Linked DNA regions of Homo sapiens: region 2 is linked to region 1. The links come from fine-mapping of genetic effects on gene expression. Tissue or cell type: whole blood. Region 1 holds a variant in brackets; the other region holds the start of a gene. All regions are shown on one strand. Distances are between the middles of the regions.

Region 1 (10,965 bases):
CAAAATGCTTCTTCCTTGGTGGTTAAAGAAATACTCCACCATCTGCCAACCTGACTACCGGATCCAGAAATTTACCATTGCCTTCAACTCTTCCTTCTTTCATTTGCATTTCTCCTAAGTAGCTCTTGAATCCACCTGTCTTCCTCTCTATCTCTGTGGTCACTTCCCTGAGCCCAGGCCACCATCATCTGTCACCTAGACAACAACCACCACTTGCTAACTGGATGTCCAGTTAAGCCACAGTCTAATCCAAATACACACTGTCACGGTGGAATTATCTAGAAGCCAAAAAGGCTTCAAGGGCTTCAGCAGAGTCCTTTAATGTAGTAAACAAGGCTACAATCTGCATTCTTTATAAGAAGCCAGTCATTGTAAATATGGTGCTTTCCTGTGTTCTGCAAGTCCTTCTAGAGAATTATTAAACTTGATGGGCGAGGGGGTCATAGAAAACCCCAAATTTGTGGTCGGCTGGGCAGAAGTGTGAGGAATCTGAGGACCCCACTTGTGGCTGGTGACTGAATTTGGGGCAGTCTCATGGGACTGAACTCTTAGCTTGTGGGGTCTACACTAACACTAGGTGTGTCATAACTGAATAGGACAGCAGCTGCAGTCAGAGAATTGATGTTGGAACATAAATGCATTCTTCGTGCTGGGGAGAGCTTGAGTGTAGATGCTACTTTTACCTCCTTAGCAGCTAACAGAGTCTAGCACAGAGGAGGCTTGTCATACCCCTTTCCTGAATGAATGAATGAAAGAACAAACTAATAAATGGAGGCTGGAGTGTTTTGCAGGACTCATCTGCAGCAGTCAAGGATGTTTATGAATGGAAGAATGGCACCAGGCGTGAATCAATTAGTCCTACAAAAACCATAAATGGCTGATGGGTTGCAACTCAAGAGAGGCAGCAACTGCTTCCCCACCCTGCCATTCCGTCAGGCTTTGCCCATCCCGTTAGTGTTCTCTAGGGAGATGAAAACCATATTATGCAAGGAATAAATATTTCAAGCAAGTTGTCTGTTTCCTTCTCTGCTGTTTTGTATTTGGTCGAAAATTAACGCTAAGAAAAATACTCAGCTCCCGGCGTGCCTCCATACTCTATATACCTCTACCCTGCCCCTGAATGCAGCCACAGGGAAGTCAGGTGCACTGCACCTTAACAGTCCTATTGTGTACAGGCACACCCAGGGCATTCTGAGACCAGAGTAGTGGGCAAGGCACTCAAGGAGTTGTGTCTACGTGAGGTTTTACTGGAGACAAGCTTTGCAAAGGAAGAGTTCACAGCTCTAGGCTTCTGGTGGATCTGTTTGGCTTGTGTTTACCTAGAATCCTCAGTTATAAAATACATCTAATAAATAGCCCGGCCTCTGAAGGCTACATACATTCACCTGAAATGCAACATCCCTTTGCAGTAAATTTCTTTTATTTTGGAGACAGGGTCTCACTCTGTCACCCAGACTGGAGTGCAGTGGAGCGATCTCGGCTCACTGCAACCTCTGCCTCCCAGGTTTAAGCGATTCTTCTGCCTCAGCATCCCAAGTCGCTGAGAATGCAGGTGCACGCCACCACACCCAGCTAACTTTTGTATTTTTAGTAGAGATAGGGTTTTGCCATGATGGCCAGGCTGGTCTCAGACTCATGACCTCAAGTGATCCTCCCAAAGTGCTGGGATTACAGGCATGAGCCACTGTGCCCGGCCTTGGAGGAGATTTCTGAGTTAAATTCAGACATCTATGGATTCAGGTCAGGGGCAGCTTTCTGATGGTCACAATAGGTCTAAGGGTAAAATTCTAGCATCCCTGCTTCCACCCAGACAGAAGGGGTCTGGCTGTGCCTACATTCTGTATTTCCTCATCAGCCTTCTAAGCCCTGGGCTTAGCCTCGAAGAACTGGCTGGAACCATCCCACCCTCTGCTCCTTGTTCTTCCTCCTCACTCCACTGACATCCCTGTGGGAAGGAGAGCTCCTAGTACTATCCCTCCTCAAAAATCAATGGGGGTGGGGTTGCAGGGAATCTACACAGATTCAATTTTTACCATAGAGGCAGAGCCATTGATCCATTGACTGCAGGTCTCAGGGTCATTCTGAGAGTGCTTTCTGCTGGTTTTGTAAACACAAGAAACATTCCTGTGGGTGAGTGCATAGGCTGGATACGGCTGGGGGATGAGCAAACCACTGTGCCTAGAGGAAAGGATTCACATTTCACAGGCTTTTTCCAAGAAAGGAAGAATGACGTGGAGAGGCATTTGGGGTCCACTTTGGAGTCTGATCAGAATCGAGGCCCAGTGATTGAACCATTCTGGAGGCAGGTCAGTGTGGGGTGGGGAGACGCGGTCCAGGAAGCCAGAGGCTGAGTAGCCAGGGGTCACTATGGTTCTCTATGCACACAGTCCACCCTTGGTGGGACGACAGCCCTGCCTCAAGGCTGTCCCTGGAGCATCACACACACAGTGTGACACGTCTACCCTTCACCACTGTTGCTGATGCTCCTTTCTAAATGACAAGAGCCATGTGTTGGTGCACGCTGTCCTCTCCACCTTGAATATCCCCTCCTCATTCTTCAACAGCTGACCCCTCATGCTCCTCCTCATTATCACTACCCTACCCCCAGGCTTAGTGAGGCTCCTTCCTCTCTGCCCCCAGGTTACACCTTTTGCTTATATTCATCCCAGCACTGGCTGGCAGGGTGGCTCACACCTGTAATCCCAGCACTTTGGGAGGCCAAGGCAACAGGATCACCCGAGGTCAGGAGTTCAAGACCATCCTGCCTAACATGGCAAAACCCCGTCTCTACTAAAAATAGAAAAATTTGCCGGGTGTGGTGGCAGGCACTTGTAATCCCAGCTACTTGGGAGGCTGAGGCTGGAGAATTGCTTGAACCCAGGAGACGGAGGTTGCAGTGAGCCGAGATCGTGTCACTGATCGTGATGGGGTTTTACCATGTTGGCCAGGCTGGTCTCGAACTCCTGACTTCAGGTGATCTGCCCACCTAGGCCTCCCAAAGTGCTGGGATTACAGGCATGAGCCACCACGCCAACGCGCCCAGCCAAGCCAACTGTTAAAAATAATTAAAGAATTATTTTTTTCTCTCTGTATAAATATTTTAAACATTTATGAGAGCTACAAATCATATAGCTTTTCTTGTGTATTTATACCCAAATTCACTGTGGCTTTGCCTATGAACCAGCCCCTACAAGAGAAAAAATTAAAGGGGGTTGCAGAGATTTCTCTTTGAAAGATAAGCAGAATCTTTAGAACTTACAAAGTCAAAAGGCTATACAGTTTCTTTATTCATTCCAAACTGACCTCCCATCATTTCAAATAAATAAAATGCTCTATTTACTCCATGAACTGACTCATGTCAGGCTCTCGGCAAAGGTTCCAGTAAAACTCAAGACTCAAGGGACTGTGTCCTCAAAAGGCTGTGTACTACATGATTCCATTTGTATAAAATGTCCAGAATAGGCAAATCCAGAGACAGAAGGCAGATGAGTGGTTGTCAGGGTCAGCGTGGGTGGGGAGACTGTGAAACAGGGAGGGACTGCTTAATGGGCATGAGGTGTCTTTCGGGGATAATGAAAATGTTGTGAAATTAGATAGTGGCGATGGTTGCATAACACCATGAATGTACTAAAAGCCACTGAAACTTATACTTCAGAACGGCTAAAATGATAAATTCTGTGATGTGAATTTTACTGCAATAAGCAAAACAGTGACTGTGTCTTACCTTCCTTCCAAAGGTTTACTAGAAACTGTGCAAGCTGTTTCATAATCACAATGTTGAGAACTGGAAAGGATGATCCTTTTTAAAGTTGGGGAACCACTAGCCCAACATCGCCATGAGGGGAAATAGAGGCCGTGTCAGCCCCAACCATCAAAGGAGACCTTTGTGCACTGGGTTTGCTGTAAATGACAGAAGCCACTTCAAAAGCCTCTTTGGAGCTGTTCAGTAAAATGCTCAGGGAACACCTGGGCACACTCAGGCAAGATAAACCACACAGACACCTCGCAGACAGACCTCCCAGGACAGAGGGACAGCAACAAGACTCCAAAAGCAACTTGAAGTTTTGGCAGCATGATCATCCACAGAGTGAAGTTCAACATTCAGTCAAGAAGAATCATTCTGATTACTTAATTGGAAGATCTGATACTTCTGAAATGAAACATTTCACAAACTCTACTGAAATAAGAAATACTTTTGATTTATTTTTTAAAAAATGAATCATTGGTTATGGAAAGAACTATATGGTCTTGCAGACAGGACAAAGTTAAAGATGTTTTGCAAGCTTAACACAACCAAATCTGATTTGAGAATTATTTTGAGGCTTGCAGCTCTGTTTGTGGCATAAATATATACATACATACATACGCAGGTATATATGTATGCAAAAATGCTTATTGACTGTGGAAATGACAGTTTAAGTCACTCTGTATTTCTTTTTTCCATGAGTCTAATATTGAATTACGATGATTCAAAGGCTCTCAGAGTGTTGTGCTAACATCGTAAATGGCTAAACATCCAAAAAAGAAAACAATTAAAACACAACGCACACACAATTTTCTTAAAGTTGTGGAAAATTAGGTAGGCACAGTTGATTGTTTTGAGCTGGTAGAAAAACCTGGGCAGCTAGCAGAGGTCTGGACAACCACGGAAAGCCCACAGCAAGGACCACACCGTGAGCAGCCACCAGAGATTTGGGATGGTAGACTTACCAAGAGTGTCCACTGGCGGGGGGGCACACGGTGAGAAAGTGCAGGATACACAATTGACACAAAAAGGAAAATAATAAAGTCAAACTGGTATTCAAGCAGCAGCAGTCTTACCTTTGTTTCATGTGTTAAACAGTCCATGGCTCGCCACCAAATTTTCTATTAGGGCTGATTAAACCCACATCCACATTCCCCTTCTCTGCCTTACTAATATCTTCCTTCCTTCTCATCTAAACAAAACCTTCCCAGTTAGTAATGACCACCCCTAGAGAAGACAGCAAGGATTTTTAAAAAGAGAGATGAAGAATATATACCCAGAAGAAGCCAAGCTTTGGCAAGAAAACCTTTCGAGTGTCATTTACCATCACTTGAAAAATATCTAGGAAATTCCTAGGAAACAAAGCTTAGGGTGGGATGAAAATGGAAAAAAAAAATTAAAGAGTTTAAAATTGTAGTATAACAGCAAATACTATGCTCGTATAGAACTCTGTGAGTCTGTTTATTACATTTATAACATTGGCTTTGCAGCCTCTAGTGGAAAGTGAGAGAGTCAACTATTTACATGTCAGCTGTGCAGTTAACATATTATAATGTTCCAGTTCTCTCTCTCTCAAGAAAAGTCCCTGCTGGGCGCAGTGGTGTGTGCCTGTAATCCCAGCTACTAGGGAGGCTGAGGCGGGAAGATCCCTGAAGCCCAGGAGTTTGAGGTCAGCCTAGGCCACCTAGTGAGATGCTGACT[C/CAA]AAAAAAAAAAAAAAAAAAAATCAAGACTTCTTAGATTTAATGATGTCATGGTAATAAGTGGAACAGTGACCATAATAAGTACCTAATGAATGCTGGCCATTATTATTTTTAAAAATCCCTTATAAACTTTTTGTAGTTACAGATGGAAACAGAAGGCTTTACCAGAATTTTTTTATTTTTTTTTTTGAGACAGAGTCTCCCTCCGTTGCCCAGGCTGGAGTGCAGTGGTGCAATCTTGGCTCATTGCAACCTCCACCTTCCAGGTTCAAGCAATTCTCCTGCCTCAGCCTCCCGAGTAGCTGGGACTACAGGCGCCCGCCACCACGCCCGGCTAATTTTTGTATTTTTAGTAGAGATGGGGTTTCACCATGTTGGCCAGGATGGTCTCGATTTCTTGACCTCATGATGCACCCGCCTCAGCCTCCCAAAGAGCTGGGATTACAGGCGTGAGCCACCACGCACAGCCCAGAATTAATTTTTAATTCACATTGATAGTAACATGGGAGTTAAATGAGAATAAGGCTGCTGAGTTCATACGGTTGGGTGGCACACGTAGGTAAATACAATGTAAAACGCCTCTCATTTCTGATGCTCTCTCTTACTTTTCCCCATTGGGTCGTGGTCAACTCCAAGACCTCCAAGGCAATAAGCTGATTATCATGGAGCAGGAAGAGGGCTCAAGAGACACTGTTCAGAGCCTGGGGTTACTGGGTCCGCTCCACACCATCTCCCCAGCATCCTGCCGCCTCCGTCCCTCCACCTGTCGGCAATGCTGGCTCTGCCCCGTGCTCTTGACCCTGTGCACGAGCCCAGAATTTCTCTGAGGGTGAGGACTGGCTAACTCCTTGCCTCGTGTTTACTTCTAGTAGGCATCTGACAAGCTTGCCTTCAAGAAAAACAGGCACACTCATCCACAGCCATAGCATATCCCAAGCTGCTAAAAAATGATTTTGAGATAAAACCTACCAAAGGCAAACCATTGAAAGTTTCTTGAAGGAAATATTTAAACACCTTTAGATTACAAACCACCTCTCTATATAGTAAGAAAGAGTCGAAGAATGTGATAAAAGGTGGTATCTGCAGAGTAAGAAGGAAAGTGAGCCGCTCACAAAAATCACATCCGTGTGTGTCTGCCCACGTCAAGGATGGTGGTAAAACCATGCTTACATGCACAAAGGCACTTGAAATGCTAAAAGGAGAGTCCAGAGAATTTTTAGATCAAAGATCAGAGTTTTTGAAAAAGGCATGGCAGGAAGCTGCTTGAGAATCTCCTGGAAACATATTAAAAAGGAAGTGATTATCTGGCTGCATACATCAGATTCCGTCTATCAGGACAAAAAAAAAAATGTATCCAAAACCTTCATCCATCCGAACGCGTGGTGCGTCAGAAGGAACTGCTAACACTTTTACAAACCGAGGGTCCGGGAATCTGCCACTTGAAGGAGATGAAACAGATCCCTCGAGGTGTTCTAGTAGAAAGGGAAATGTCAGCTAACCAGACCCCTAAACAACTGAAAGCCTCAAATGACCAGATTTCTTCCAGCCCTTAAGTGAGTTGTGTTTTCTTCAGTCCATTCTCAGCCATACATATGCCTCCTAGGAGAGCTCTCCATAAAAGATTCCAGTCCGAATGTGACTCTAGTACCTTTCAGAAGGCTGCTTTCATCCCAGAAATATACAAATAGAACACCTGGTCCAAAACTGCACTTACTGATTTTAGAAAAAAATCTTTATAAAGGACAGAAATAAAAATTATTTTCTGGTGGTATCTTGAAGTAACTAGAAATTCTCTAGAACATTCCAAGCTATGGATCTGACCGATCTCGTGGACCTAAGTCCACCGTGTGGAAAAGACACGGTGCCAGAGACTGCTGGTGTGAGGCTGTGGCTGAGAAGACAGATGCTTCAGAAACCCCTGATCCCAACCTCCATTCTCTCATCTGTCAGGCCAATGTGCCCTAAGAAACCACACAACTGAATGCCAATCATTCCCAAGTCCCAGGGCCAGATGCCTCTCTTCATGTTATGCACAGTCCAGCATTCTATGGGTCCCATATCTTCCTATCCAGCCTTGATAGGGAGCTCATTATCCTGCAGGCAGCCCGAGCCAGTGCTAGGAAGGTCTAATTGCCAGAAACTTCTTTTGATGTTGCATTGCAATCACCCTATCAGGCTTCACCCAGAGGTATAAATTCTGCTAATTGGGCAATGCCAGTGACTTTGAGTGACAGAGGACAACCAATTCAGCCTCCATGCAGAACTTAGATAAAAGGATTATCACTGTAGCCAAGAACTTAGGGCCTCTGAAAACTGAGTGGTGGAAGAGCTGAGGGAAAACAGCCACTTTTTCTTCCTTCATCCTTTTCACCAAACTCCCAAACCTTTTCTAAGCCTAAGCATCTTCCCTGGACCACCTCTCCCAGCCCAGGAATCCTTCCTCTCTCAAAGCTGCCAACCTGTCAGTTATGTGGAGTTCAGCCCCGAACTGTGACCAGCCTGCTCTCTTCCGGGCCTCAGACTTCATGGAATATGGTAGTAATTTTACTTATAAATGCTTACCTCTACAGTCACTAAAATGTTACTATGTCACAAACCCTATTACTTGTCAAACACTAGCTCCCAGGTGCCCTGGTTAGATAGGATACAAATCTGAGAAGCTCCAGACTAAAATAAAACATACGAAAGAAACTGCTGGGGCCAATGCTGATGGAAAATCTGATTGTGGGTGAAAATTCTGCTGCCTTTATCTCAAAATGGGTTTATGGTTGTTGTGAAAATTCAGGGTGGGGGGCTCATTTTATAGAAATGTTCAAGGTTAAAAACTGTGTCCTATCATCACCCCACTACACACCACCCTCCACAATCCCATCTCTACAAATGTGTCTTCTATTTCCAACAGAGAACGCTGGTTTAGGGGAGAGAAAATTCAGGCTGGGGGATCCCAACTCGAAAAGGTTGTCTCAAATTAATGGTAAACACCACCCACAGAGCAGCCTGACGGAAGAATCCCATCTTATCAGTTGTGAAGCAGCAGATTCAGAAACTTGGTGTCAAAGAAGAATAGACTGGAAGGAATGTCACCTTCTCTAGCTCAGGAGAAAGTCCCTACATTTTTAGGTGGTAGTAAAATGTCACAAGTGCTTGCAAAGTGGATGCTGCTAGATTTTTCTCTTCAAACTCCCAGTCCATTCTGGAGGAACAAAGGTGGGTCAAAGATCTGACGATTCATTTGTTTGTGAAGGAGGATAAACAAGGATGTGGGGGAAAGGCATCTTGCCTGGTTGTGCTCAGTGGTAGATTATCAAGCTCCTCCCTCATGAACACCATGGAAAATCCCCTGTATGGCCATGACTCCCAGCTTCCCCTGCACCCATTCCTAGCATTCTCACAAGACTTAATAAAGGGTTTTGAAGATTATAGGCTGTGAAAGCTGCAGGAGAAAATGACATAATTTCTGTAATAATTACTAGAGAACATTTGCATAAAGGCCTTTCTGCATTATCCCAAGGCTTCTAAGAAATTTATAGGTATCATTACGAAGCACAATAGGCATGGAAACTGTCAAACTTGGAAGACAAAGGTGGGGGAAGGAACACGTCAAGTACCACTTGGCAAAGGCCTCAAATTAATACCTATTCTGCACTTTGAGAATGTGAACTCAGATAGGTCCTATTTGCTCCCACCTGTTTTCCAGGGCCGTCATACTTAAGGAAGTCTCTGAAGTGAACACCTTTCACTTCAAAAACAAATCAAGTACTCCATCAGGAAGTAACATCAGTGGCAGAATTTTAGGAGTTACCTTTTTTTGCTTTCTTCTGCAGTTTCAGCGTATCCGAGGACTTCTTTTTTATCTCTTGGCGGGCTTTCTTATATTCTAAGAGAAAGCAGAATATGGAACAATTTTACCACTTTGCTTAACAGAAAATATGTTAGGTAGGAAACAGCCATTACATTTATCACAGAAAGCATAAACTGTGACATGCCGTCAATGGCTTTATCAGAATACAATATGATAATCTCATGATGACATTTACAACAAAGGGGCTAGAGACACGAAAACAAAATGCACAGTGGTCTTGCCCTGTCATATTCACTCATACCAGCTTTGAAGGGAGGCTCCGTTTGGGAATACTTTTTTTTTTTTTAAGACAGAGTCTTGTTCTGTGGCCCAGGCTGGAGTGCAGTGGCATGATCTCGGCTCACTGCCACCTCCACCTCCCGAGTTCAAGCGATTCTCCCACCTCAGCCTCCTGAGTAGCTGGGATTACAGGCGCCCACCACCACGCCCAGCTAATTTTTGTACTTTTAGTAGAGATGGGGTTTCACCATGTTGGCCAGGCTGGTCTTGAACTCCTGACCTCAAGTGATCCTTGGCTTCCCAAAGTGCTGGGATTACAGGCATGAGCCACCATGCCTGGCGGGGAATACTTTAGTAAAAATGAAAAAAATTCACAATTTCTCAGCTCAAGTATCCGGAAAGATTTTTCAATATTATCTACTTTCCCCGGGCCCAAATCCACAGTGTTTTGCAAAAACAAAAAAACAAACAAAAAACAAAAAACCCCTATGTGGAAAAGATGCTGGGCAGATGTTAAAATCCAGAAAAAGTGTCTCATACAGCAGGAGAAGCTAGATCACACAGTGGGGAGACTGGGCAAGAAGAACCAGCTGCCTTACTTTCAGCATGAATCCTGTGGCTAGATACCACAAACACCTCAGAGGGGCAGTCCAAGTGCACCACATCCCCTGCCAAGCACTTCCTCCTCCACCACTGGCCCATTCGCAGACTGCCCCATTTCTGTTGCTGGCATCCTCATCACCCAGACATAGACACCTGGGATGATGGTCACCTGTGACACTTTTCCCTTTGCTGCCCTCACAGTCAATTAATTGCCAGCTGCTGTACATTTCACCTTGGCCAGCTCCCTTGCAGCCAGCTCTGAGGTTTCCCTTCTACTGGCCCTAAGCCTATTTATACACACCTGGAATCACTGTGCAGCGTGGCAGCTCTCCACTCTTTTCTGGCCACTCCCCCATCTTCCCTGCCTATCTGCACAGTTTTCTATCTGGCTAGGGCCCCTTCACTGCTCTAACGTCAGCGTGATGAAACCATGTACACCTACTGGGATCCCTCCAAATGGTGCCTCATTTTCTAATTCCTCAACCAAACCTCTCCAACCTCTGGGGCTCCCTGTATCTCTCTCCCCCAACATCCTGTGCTCTGCCCTACAGTCTCTCCTCCCTCCCCCTACAAGCTCCCCAGGGGACGCAGCAGTGCCTGGGTCATGTCTGAGCATCTTGGGCTAGCAGAGTGGGTTGCGTGTGGCTGCTACTCGGGTCGCGCTCCCTGAGTTAAAGGCTGAATCGAAAAGATGAAGGAAGTGCTGTGTCACCGAGGCTGGGGGTTAGGAGCTTTGTACCCCACAACCTCTTGGCCCCTGTGCAGACAGGCCACTTAGCAGGTATGCAGGCCGGACAATGGGTCTCAATTCACATTCAGGCCTAGGCTCTTCATCTC
Region 2 (10,965 bases), 130 kb before region 1:
TGCGGTTGAGGCACTAAGGAGTACTTACTTAGTAGGGTCCTTTCCACTGTGGGAAAGTTGATCTGCTAGGGACCATTTTTTCAAGTCATTAACAGGATCCCATTTCCTGGCTGGATTACAATAGGATTTTTTTCCTTAGTGAGGGAAGGAAGTCTCTCATTTCTGTATTCAAGAAGAGCTTTTTGCACCTGACCTAAGTTGGCAACATAATTCTGTAATTTGAAAGTATCTCCATCTACTAGGAAATCAGCAATTCTTTCAGAAAGGCTTTCCGTACATTATTTCAAAAGGGCTGAGCCTTCCACTGGGGCAGCCCAAACTTGCAGCGAGGCCACAGGCGATAGACGGAGCCAGGTTTCTGATGTTTCCTGTCAGAGCTTAGCAAGGGTCCTGTCTAAAATTTGATTGGTCCTTTCTACTTTTCCTGAAGACTGTGGCCTCCATGCGGAATGAAGACCATATTGAATTCCTAGAGCGGATGCTATGTCTTGGTTATTGTTGCTGTAAAGATGGGCCATTATCACTCTACAAGCTTTTAGGCAACCTGAATCTGGGAATCATATCCTTGAATGAAAATTTAGAAACCTTGATTGACTTTTCAGGCCAGATAGGAAAAGCTTCAATCCAACATGTAAAGAAAGGTATCAACCAACACTGATAAATATTGGAATCCTTTACATGGGGGCATTTGGGTATAGTGTGTTTGCCAATCTTCTTCTGGGTACGACCCCCTATGCTGAACAGGCTTTACTAATGGAGGAGGTAAAGTTTGGTTGTTTGAGGTTTTTTTGGGCACACAATTCACAGGCCCAAGTCACTTGTTTTACTGTTCTAAGAAAGTCTTTTCGGCCAGGCACGGTGGCTCACGCCTGTAATCCCAGCACTTTGGGAGGCTGAGGTGGGTGGATCACGAGGTCAGGAGTTCAAGACCAGCCTGGCCAACATGGTGAAACCCTGTCTTTACTAAAAATACAAAAATTAGCTGGGCATGGTGGCAGATGCCTGCAATCCCAGCTACTCGGGAGGCTGAGGCAGAGAATTGCTTGAACCCAGGAGGCAGAGGTTGCAGTGAGCTGAGATCACACCACTGCACTCCAGCCTGGGTGACAGAGCGAGACTCCGTCTCAAAAAAAAAAAGAAAGTCTTTCCCTATAAACAGATGAGCCATATTAATTGAAATGAGAAATCTCTTCCCAAATGAGTAGAGCCATGCCAATACTTAACTATTTTCCATTGATCAGCTCTTGGTACATATCATCTGTCATTTTCATCAATTAGCCATCTGGAAGTGCTTATAGTTAACCCATGGGTCTTAGCCCATTTTTGTTCTTTTCTAGTATTAACCATGCTCTAGTTTTATCGTCACCAAGGCAGTGGGCACCAACATGCCTACCAGATTAACTGGTTCCCTCAAATGAAGCTGCCTCAGCTGTAGCATCTGCAAAAGAATGCCCTTTTATTATTTTGGAGTTTTCTTTCTTTCTTTTCTTTTCTTTTTTTTCTTTTTTTTTTTTTTTTTGAGTCAGAGCCTTGCTCAAGTTGCCCAGGCTGGAGTGCAATGGCACGATCTCAGGCTCACTGCAACCTCTGCTGCCCAGGTTCAAGCAATTCTCCTGCCTTAGCCTCCCAGGTAGCTGGGATTACAGGCACGAGCCACCACGCCCAACTAATTTTTGTATTTTTAGTAGAGATGGGGTTTCACCCTGTTGGCAAGCCTGGTCTCGAACTCCTGACCTCATGATCCGCCCGCCTTAGCCCCTCAAAGTGCTGGGATTACAGGTGTGAGCCACAGTGCCTGGCATATTTTGGAGTTTTCTTTTTGATGTCCCTTGCAGTGAATCACAGCAACTTCCTTAGGCAGCAAGGAAGCATCTAGTAGATTTAAAATTCCCAAATAATGTTCTATAGGGGAGCCCTTAGAAGTTAAAGAGTCCCCATTATTTCCAAATAGCAGCATGAGCATGAAGCACCAGAAAGCCATACTTGGAGTTTGTGTACATGTTAATTCTTTTTTAAAATTATTATCCTTTTTTGAGACAGAGTCTCGCTCTGTCTCTAGCCTGGAGTGCAGTGGCATGACCTTGGCTTACTGCAAGCTCTGCCTCCTGGGTTCAAGTGATTCTCCTCCCTCAGCCTCCTGAGTAATTGGGACTACAGGTGTGCACCACCACGCCCAGGTAATTTTTGTATTTTTAGTACAAATGGGGTTTCACCATGTTGGCCAGGCTGTTCTGGAACTCCTGACCTCAAGTAATCCGCCTGCCTCAGCCTCCCAAAGTACTGGGATTACAGGTGTGAGCCACCACACCCAGCCCTAGTGGCCCGTCTTTTAAATCCTGCCAGCTGGAATAAATTTGTTCCATAGCTTGTGTACATGAATGATCTAGGGTGCCTTTGGATCCAAGTAGATACGTAGCTAGGATTAAGGTCTTCTGTTATACTTTAAGAGTTATATCAAGAGTATCTAGCAATAAAGCCTGATAATTTAATAACTATCCCCTACTCATCTATTGGTGCCCTTTAGCTTCTAGGGCCTCTGTTATTTGGTGTGGGGTCAAAACCTCCAGATGTTGTCCCAAAGTTAATTTATTGTCTTCATCTATGAGAAGAGCAGTTGTTGCAACTGCCCTGAAACATCTGAGTCATCCTGAAGCCACATGGTCAATTGGTTAGAAAAATATGCCATGGGTCAAGGGATGTATCCCTGTTTCTAGACAAGAACATTTAGGGCTGTCCCTTGTTTCTCAGCCACATAAAGGAAGAAAGTAAAGCCTGTCCCTAAACCCACGGGGAAGAATTGTCCAAGTTAACACAGAAACCAAAAGATTATTAGGTAATCAAAAGTAAAGACCACAATAGGGGACTCAGCAAAAGAAATGTTTCACTAGAGAAGGGAAATGACAAAGTTCTAGAAAGGAATGTCCAAGTTCAGGCCAGTAGCGGCAAGCAGGACAAGATTTACATGGCCTTGCCATTTGTAACCAAAAAGTAAAAGTCATTCCATTAGCAAGGAGATGAAAAAGAACTGCTGAAAAGCAATCTCCAGTTTTCCATCCTGGAGCAGTTCACCTAGGGGGGACTGGTATAATTGCTGCCAGGCTTAATCTTTCACATTGGACCTTTTCATTTAAAACTTGTAAATGCGAAATTCCAAGTAAGCTTTGCAAAAAAGGAGAGACAATAAACAATTCATTTAAGTGGTCTAGATCTAGGGAAAGTAAATATTACAGAGCCATTTGTCCCCAATGTCTTCTAGCAACATGCCAGAACAACAGGCAAATGGCCCATAACCCAAAGGCAAACAAGAAAAAGGAAAGTTAAAAACCTCAGGACCAGTTCAACAAGATCTCTCTCATAAAGTAGCAGTAAAGCATAGAAAGCAATCAGGAAACTGGCAAGTGGCAGCCTTTGGAAAGCTCTTACAGAGAGCACAAGGAGGACGAATCCACAGTGAATAATGGTTAACATCCCATTGTGCTAAACCCATTTTCAGCTGTGAGGGGCCTTTAATCCTCCCAAGTAGGCCTCAAACCCAATCTTAGATAAGTGTCCTTGTCCTTCATCGGTATAAAAATGTATTCCCCTTCTTACCCAAAGTCAGTCAGTTGGTCCTGCGCAGTCTATTTCTTTTGGGTTGAAGGTCTCACCTCAATAAAGTCCTTGGGAGTTGCCACAGGAAATGTTACTTAAAAGGAATTTTGTTCCAGACCCAAAAAACAGGTTCTTGGATCTCAGACAGGAAAGAATTTAGGGCCAGTCACAGAGCACAGTGAAAGAAGCAAGTTTATTAAAGACTACTCTATTACAGAGTAGGGTGTTCTCAGAAGGCGAGAGGAGGACCCCACACCAAAAATTATGTAGCTAGCTAAGAATAATGGTCTCATGTGCTTTAGTACAACAGCTTGTGATCCACTTGTGACAGAGTATTAGTAGTGTTATTCTCTGTGTAACTATTGATTTCAGCAAACATTTATGAAAATACTATTATCTTTAAAGAGAAACCTATTCTTAAACTAATAATGCTTTCTGTTCTCAAGATATCAGGACATCTTCTTAAGTTCTGGGTCTTGTTTAGTGAGTAAGAATCATTAGCTCGTTCAGCCAAAAGGTCTTGTTATGGGTAGAGGGTGTCCAGGTTCGTGACATCTTGAACAAAGAATTGGACAAAATGTACAAACCAAGGAAAGAATGAAGCAACAAAATCAGATTTATTGAAAATGAAAGTACACTCCCCAGGATGGGAGCAGCCCCTGTCTAGGGGCTCAACAGCTGGGTTACAGAATCTTCTGGGGTCCAAATACCCACTAGAGGTTTCTTACTGGTCACTTGGTGTTCACCCCATGCAAATGAAGTAGTGGCCTGCAATCAGAGGCTGAAGTAAAGTTACAAAGTTGCACTCCTATGCAAACGTCTGATTGAGGCCATTATTTCATTTGCATGGAGTGCACACCAAGTGGCCAATGGGAAACCTCTAGTGGGTATTTGGATTGATTGGTGGCTTTCTGCAACCAATCAGAGGTACTTTCAATTTTCCTTCTGCCCTGCAGAAAAGCAGGTTTGCAAAGGGAGTAACCTCTGGTCCTTCTGTTACTTAGGCATAGATAGTTGGTTTTTTCCTTTTGATTTAGTTCTACGAAGTCAGTGTGAATCAGCCTTAGGTTCCCTGCCTCCAGACCCTATTTTCCTGCCTCAGTCTTATTATGGAGAGTACTTAACTTTCTGGGAATGTAACCCAGCAGGTTTTGCTTTATTCAGCCTTTATTCAAGATGGAGTCACTCTGGTTTGGACTCCTCTGACAGCGGGAGTGAAGTAGAAGTGATAGGGTTTCTTTACAGTTCTTATATCCAACTATTTGATTTAGTCTATATGGAATTCCCCTTTGTCTTCTTTAGGAATATCAAAGCATTTCAACAGGTATTTAGTACCTGTGAGCTAGCCAACTTGTTACTTTGTATCTTTTTAAGTATCTACTCTTTACTAGTTATTGTCTAAGACACTATAATGTCTCTACTCACTATAGCAATCTTCTGAAGATTAGATTCCATTTTATAAGTGAAGATTCCAATTTTGAGGGGTGATACGATTTACTGGAACTCAGATCCTTCTGACTTTCAAATAGTTGTTTCTTGGACCAAAGGACAATGAAACAGTGATGACTATATCTGCATGAAAAGGGAAAAAGGGAGCTGTATCTGACTCTTCACTTTCAGAAAATAAGGTGGCTGCTGATGCTAACCTGAGAGCAGCATTAGGCTATGGGAAAGCTTTCTCCAAATTCAGATCATCATTTTGTTACAGGAAAGGGGTCCCAATGCAGACTACAACATGGGGTTCTTGGATCTCATGCAAGAAAGAATTCAGGGCAAGTCCGCAGTGCAAAGTGAAAGCAAGTTTATTAAGAAAGTAAAGGAATAAAAGAATGGCTATTCCATAGACAGAGCAGCCATGAGGGCTGCTGGTTGCCCATTTTTATGGTTATTTCCAGATGATATGCTAAACGAGGGGTGGATTATTCATGCCTCCCCTTTTTAGACCATATAGGGTAACTTCCTGACGTTGCCATGGCATTTGTAAACTGTCATGGCGCTGGTGGGAGTGTAGCAGTGAGCACCACCAGAGGTCACTCTCGTGGCCATTTTAGTTTTGGTGGATTTTGGCCGCTCCTTCACTGCAACCTGTTTTATCAGCAAGGTCTTTTTGACCTGTATTTTATGCTGACTTCCTATCTCATCTGGCGACTTAGAGTGCCTTAACCGTCTAGGAATGCAGCCCAGTAGGTTTCAGCCTCATTTTACCCAGCTCCTATTTAAGATGGAGTTGCTCTGGTTCATGCGCCTCTGACAATTTCATGTTAATTTTTCTCTTTGAATTCATGAGCAGCACTGAAGAGAGTGCATGAGGTTTCTGGAAAATAGCAATTTGAAGTCTTTTAGTCCATAAGATTCCCTGTTATAAATGTCTTCCTAGGCTGAAAAAAAAGTAATGGTTGACCATAAAAAAGATGGCGGCCGCAGCTTCTCCACAGCAACGGCAACGCCATTCTCAAGCAAGCGCATCAATATATTTAGTTCCGGCCTCTTTGCACGTCATTTCCGGCACCGGCATGGCCGGGTGAGCTGCAGGCTACCTTATTTAAGACCGGGAATTTAGTCAGCCTGGTGAGCCGACTCTGAGGAGATGGAGTATCGCTGAGGTGATGAGAGAGAATGTGGTTGTTAGCAACATGGAGAGAGAAAGTGGGAAGCCCGTGGCTGTTGTCGCAGTTGTGACTGAGCCTTGGTTTACCCAGCGATACAGAGAATATCTCCAGAGGCAGAAACTCTTTGATACACAGCACCGTGTGGAAAAGATGCCGGATGGCTCGGTGGCGCTACCGGTGCTGGGAGAGACGCTTCCAGAGCAGCACCTGCAGGAGCTGAGGAATCGTGTTGCCCCAGGCAGTCCCTGTATGCTCACGCAGCTCCCGGATCCTGTTCCTTCGAAGAGGGCCCAGGGTTGTTCACCTGCCCAAAAATTGTGTCTTGAGGTGAGTCGCTGGGTGGAGGGTCGGGGAGTCAAGTGGTCAGCCGAGTTGGAGGCTGATTTGCCCCGATCATGGCAACGGCATGGTAATCTCTTGTTGCTGAGTGAAGACTGTTTCCAAGCCAAGCAGTGGAAAAATCTGGGACCGGAACTCTGGGAGACCGTTGCCTTGGCACTTGGCGTCCAGCGTTTGGCAAAACGAGGGCGGGTATCACCGGATGGTACTCGAACTCCAGCAGTGACACTGCTGCTGGGTGACCATGGCTGGGTAGAGCATGTGGATAATGGTATCCGTTATAAGTTTGACGTGACCCAGTGTATGTTCTCCTTTGGAAACATCACTGAGAAGCTTCGAGTGGCATCGTTGTCCTGTGCTGGAGAAGTGCTGGTGGATCTCTATGCAGGGATTGGTTATTTTACATTGCCTTTCCTAGTTCATGCTGGTGCTGCCTTCGTCCATGCTTGTGAGTGGAATCCCCATGCTGTAGTTGCTCTGAGAAATAACCTTGAGATCAATGGAGTAGCAGATCGGTGCCAAATACACTTTGGAGATAACAGAAAACTGAAGCTCTCAAATATTGCAGATAGGGTGATCCTGGGGCTGATTCCCAGCTCTGAAGAAGGCTGGCCCATTGCCTGCCAAGTGTTAAGGCAGGATGCTGGAGGCATTTTGCATATCCACCAAAATGTGGAATCTTTCCCAGGGAAGAATCTTCAGGCTCTTGGAGTCAGCAAAGTAGAGAAAGAGCATTGGCTGTATCCTCAGCAAATTACCACCAACCAATGGAAAAATGGAGCTACCAGGGATTCTAGGGGAAAAATGCTGTCACCAGCCACCAAGCCAGAGTGGCAAAGGTGGGCAGAATCTGCAGAAACTCGAATCGCCACTCTTCTTCAGCAGGTGCATGGGAAACCATGGAAGACACAAATTCTGCACATCCAACCAGTGAAATCCTATGCTCCCCATGTGGATCACATAGTCCTGGATCTGGAATGCTGCCCCTGTCCTTCAGTTGGCTAGAGGAGGTAGATCCTGGGACACATGGGATCCACGTGCGAGTGGCCCTTAAATGTATCAGTTCAGTCCAGGTTGTCATCCCTTTTGTCCCCTGGTGATCAGTTTTTTTCATATTTTATAGCCCTGAAAGCAGGCTCTAGATCAATTCAAATTATTTCATTTGTCTTTCATTGATAACAGAAAATGAAATACCTGTTTGGGAGAAGCAGCATGGCCCATTGAAATGAGGCTCATCTGTGCAATTATGAATTCCAAATTCTGACCTCAGTTCTGGAATTGAAGTTTCAGTATGTTTTGGCCTCGGGTTTCGTTATTTGCAAAATGAGAGTTTCTTTGAACTGTCTCACGTGACTATTAAGCAACTATACACAGGACATCGGTTATTTTAGAGTGAAAGACACAGTGCTTTTTCCAAATTGCTCTGGCTACCATATAGAAAATTGACTGAAGGAGGGCCAAGATGGAAACAGAGAGACCAGTGAGGAGGCTTCTGTGGTTGTCCAGGTCTGAGGTGATGGTAACTTGGACTCGGATGGTGGTAATGGGAGGTAGATTGATATGATAAATAAAATTGACAGACCAAGCAATGGAATCAGAATTAAGTCCTTAACATGAAGCTGCTTTGTTATTATGACTGACTAAATTAGAGAGAGAAGGGAACAAAAATTATTTTAGTGTATTTCCATTCCCTTACTGTGGCATTCCTAAATGATTGTGAGGGGTTGTCTTATAAATTTGGTTTGTTGTGGTAGAAATATGGTTAAGAATCACCAGTCTATTTTTTTTTTTAAAGCTCATCTGCTGAGGACGAATCACTGTTCTAAATCATAGGGAATCTAGATTTCTAGCCTCAAGCTTGTGCAATAGCTGCCAATTAATACTTATTAGTTTAAAGTTCCTATTAAAATCTTAGATTCGTATAGGCCTCATACTCCCTCTTCATCTTCCTACCGTGGCTGAGAACAGGAGGGACAACCTAAGAAGCTATAGGGAATGTGAGATATTCTGCAGAGCATTTCCAGCCTCACCTTATTTTATGGCTGTCTGCCATAAAAGATGGTTTGCCACTGGAGTGAATAATTGTTTGTTGTTTTGTTTGTTTGCTTTTTTGTTTTTTTGAGACAGAGTCTTGCTCTGTCACCCAGGCTGGAGTGCAGTGGCACCATCTTGGCTCACTGCAACCTCTGCCTCCCAGGCTCAAGCGATTCTCAAGCCTCAGACTCTCAAGTAGCTGGGATTACAGGTGTGCAGCACCATGCCCAGGTAATTTTTGTATTTTTAGTAGAGATGGGGTTTCACCATGTTGGCCAAGCTGTTTTGGAACTCCTGACCTCAAGTGATCTGCCCACCTCGACCTCCCAAAGTGCTGGGATTACAGGTGTTAGCCACCACGCATGACCCAAGATGACTAATTGTTGATTACCACTCAGAGCTTTGTTCTGGTGTATTTTGAAGCTATCTAGGCTGGTTTGCTAGGTGAAGGAAATATAGAAAAGTGTGGCCTTGTATGATTGTACCTGACATTTGGCTGGCTGGATTTGGGCATGGCTACTCATCCTTCTCTTGCAACAGTAGCAGTAAGGACAGGTTGGTGCTGTTTGTGTTATCCAACAAATATTAAGTGCCTATTATATACAAAAGCCACAGGAAACATAACGATCCATTAGATAGAGTTCCTGTCTCTGAGAAACCCACAATCTAGCAGCAGAAATAACACAAGTACTCAAAGAAAGACTTGGAATGCAGTAAGATGAGTGCCATGTGAGTGATAGCACGTTGTAGGAATGAAAAGGTGGGAAAGGAGTTCTCAGAACTGAATAGTGAAGTCTTCAGAGGTAGTGTTTGAATTGGCTCATGAAAACTGGGTAAGATTTTGATGGGTAGGTTGCGGGTAGAAACAGGCACTAGTAGAAGAGAATAACAGATGCAAAAGTTTGAATCCTCAGAAAATGGTATGTTGTTATTAGATAAGTTTGGAACAGAGGAAGCAGTGAGAGATGTGTTGAAGATGGGGGTTGTTGTAAGGATTAAAAAAGCACTGTGTCTTGTACACAGTAATCCCCTAGGGAGATGTTAGCCAGCATGTGATCCCACCACAAAAACAAACAGCCTGCTTATTTCCATTCCCATCTCACAGAGCGGTCTTCCTGTGTTACCTTAATCATCTCCTCCTTTTTTTTTTTTTTTTTGTTTGAGATAGAGTCTCACTCTGTCACCCAGGCTGGAGTGCAGTGGCACAATCTCGGCTCACTGAAACCTCTGCCTCCTGGGTTCAAGCGATTCTCCTGCCTGAGCCTCCCAAGTAGCTGGGACTACAGGTGTGTGTCACCACGCCTGGCTAATTTTTTGTATTTTTAGTAGAGACGGGTTTCACCGAATTAGCCAGGATTGTCTCAATCTCCTGACCTTGTGATCTGCCCGCCTCATCCTCCCAAAGTGCTGAGATTACAGGCATGAGCCACCATGCCCAGCCAGTCATCTCCTCTTTTACATAGTGGGTTTTTCCTCACTTGTGTGTCCATGGCTTGCTGTCCTCAAACTATAAAGATACCAACCTGGAGGTTGAGCCAATATGGGAAGGGAACAAGGAGAAACAATGAGGAAGAGGAGCCAGAGAGTCAGTCTGGGGACTGAGGATTTGCCTTTTTGCCACAAGCTCTGGATAGACAGCTGATGTCAGGTGTGGCCAGTTGAACTCATTCGACCAACAGTTGTTGGACTCCTGCATGCTTGCACTCTCCCTCTCTCATATATATATTATATATATATTCATATAATATATATATCATATATAATATATATATATTCATATATAATATATATTCATATATAATATATATATTCATATATAATATATATATTCATATATAAATATATAAATAAATAAATATATACATATATATATGGGCCCTGTGTGTGCAGTGATGTAAGACTGACATGGCTCTGCCTTCATATAATTTATTTGTTTTTATTTTTTGGAGATGGAGTCTCGCTCTGTCGCCCAGGCTGGAGTGCAGTGGAGCGATCTCAGCTCACTGCAACCTCCGCCTCCCAGGTTCAAGCAATTCTCCTGTCTCAGCCTCCTGAGTAGCTGGGATTACAGGCATCTGCCACCATGCCCGGCTAATTTTTGTATTTTTGGTAGAGAGGGTTTCACCATGTTGGCCAGGCTGGTCTTGAACTCCTGACATCAAGGGATCCACCCGCCTCGGCCTCCCAAATGCCTCTTAGAATTTAGATTCCACTCATTCAACTCCTGACTCCTCTACTTTCTGGGTGACCTCAGGCAAGTTATGAATCTCTCAAGATTTAGTTTCCTTATCTGTACATTAGGGTTAACAATTGTACATATCCTGTAGGGTAGTTCTTAGGTTTAAATGAATATATGTTAAGCTGTCATCATCGTGACTCACTGAGTGGTGAA

Evidence for each region. PIP is the estimated chance that this variant, and not a neighbour inherited with it, causes the effect.
Region 2: it holds the start of TYW2, and the variant in region 1 is fine-mapped to the expression of TYW2 in whole blood (INTERVAL, PIP above 0.99).

The regions. Positions count from the first base shown.
Region 1 is chr8:124,575,841-124,586,805 of GRCh38, forward strand. It overlaps MTSS1 (MTSS I-BAR domain containing 1), which reads right to left. Exons shown (of 14, transcript NM_014751.6): 6 at 9,247-9,321. It overlaps LOC105375740 (a long non-coding RNA gene), which reads left to right. Exons shown (of 2, transcript XR_928608.3): 2 at 3,738-4,811. Among named protein-coding and RNA genes, the nearest start is that of NDUFB9, 42 kb to the left of the region's middle. The variant C/CAA (reference allele first, on the strand shown) is at 5,447.
Region 2 is chr8:124,444,731-124,455,695 of GRCh38, forward strand. TYW2 (tRNA wybutosine-synthesizing protein 2) reads left to right here and starts at 6,090. Exons shown (of 1, transcript NM_017956.4): 1 at 6,090-8,296. The coding sequence starts at 6,198. The coding sequence ends at 7,544.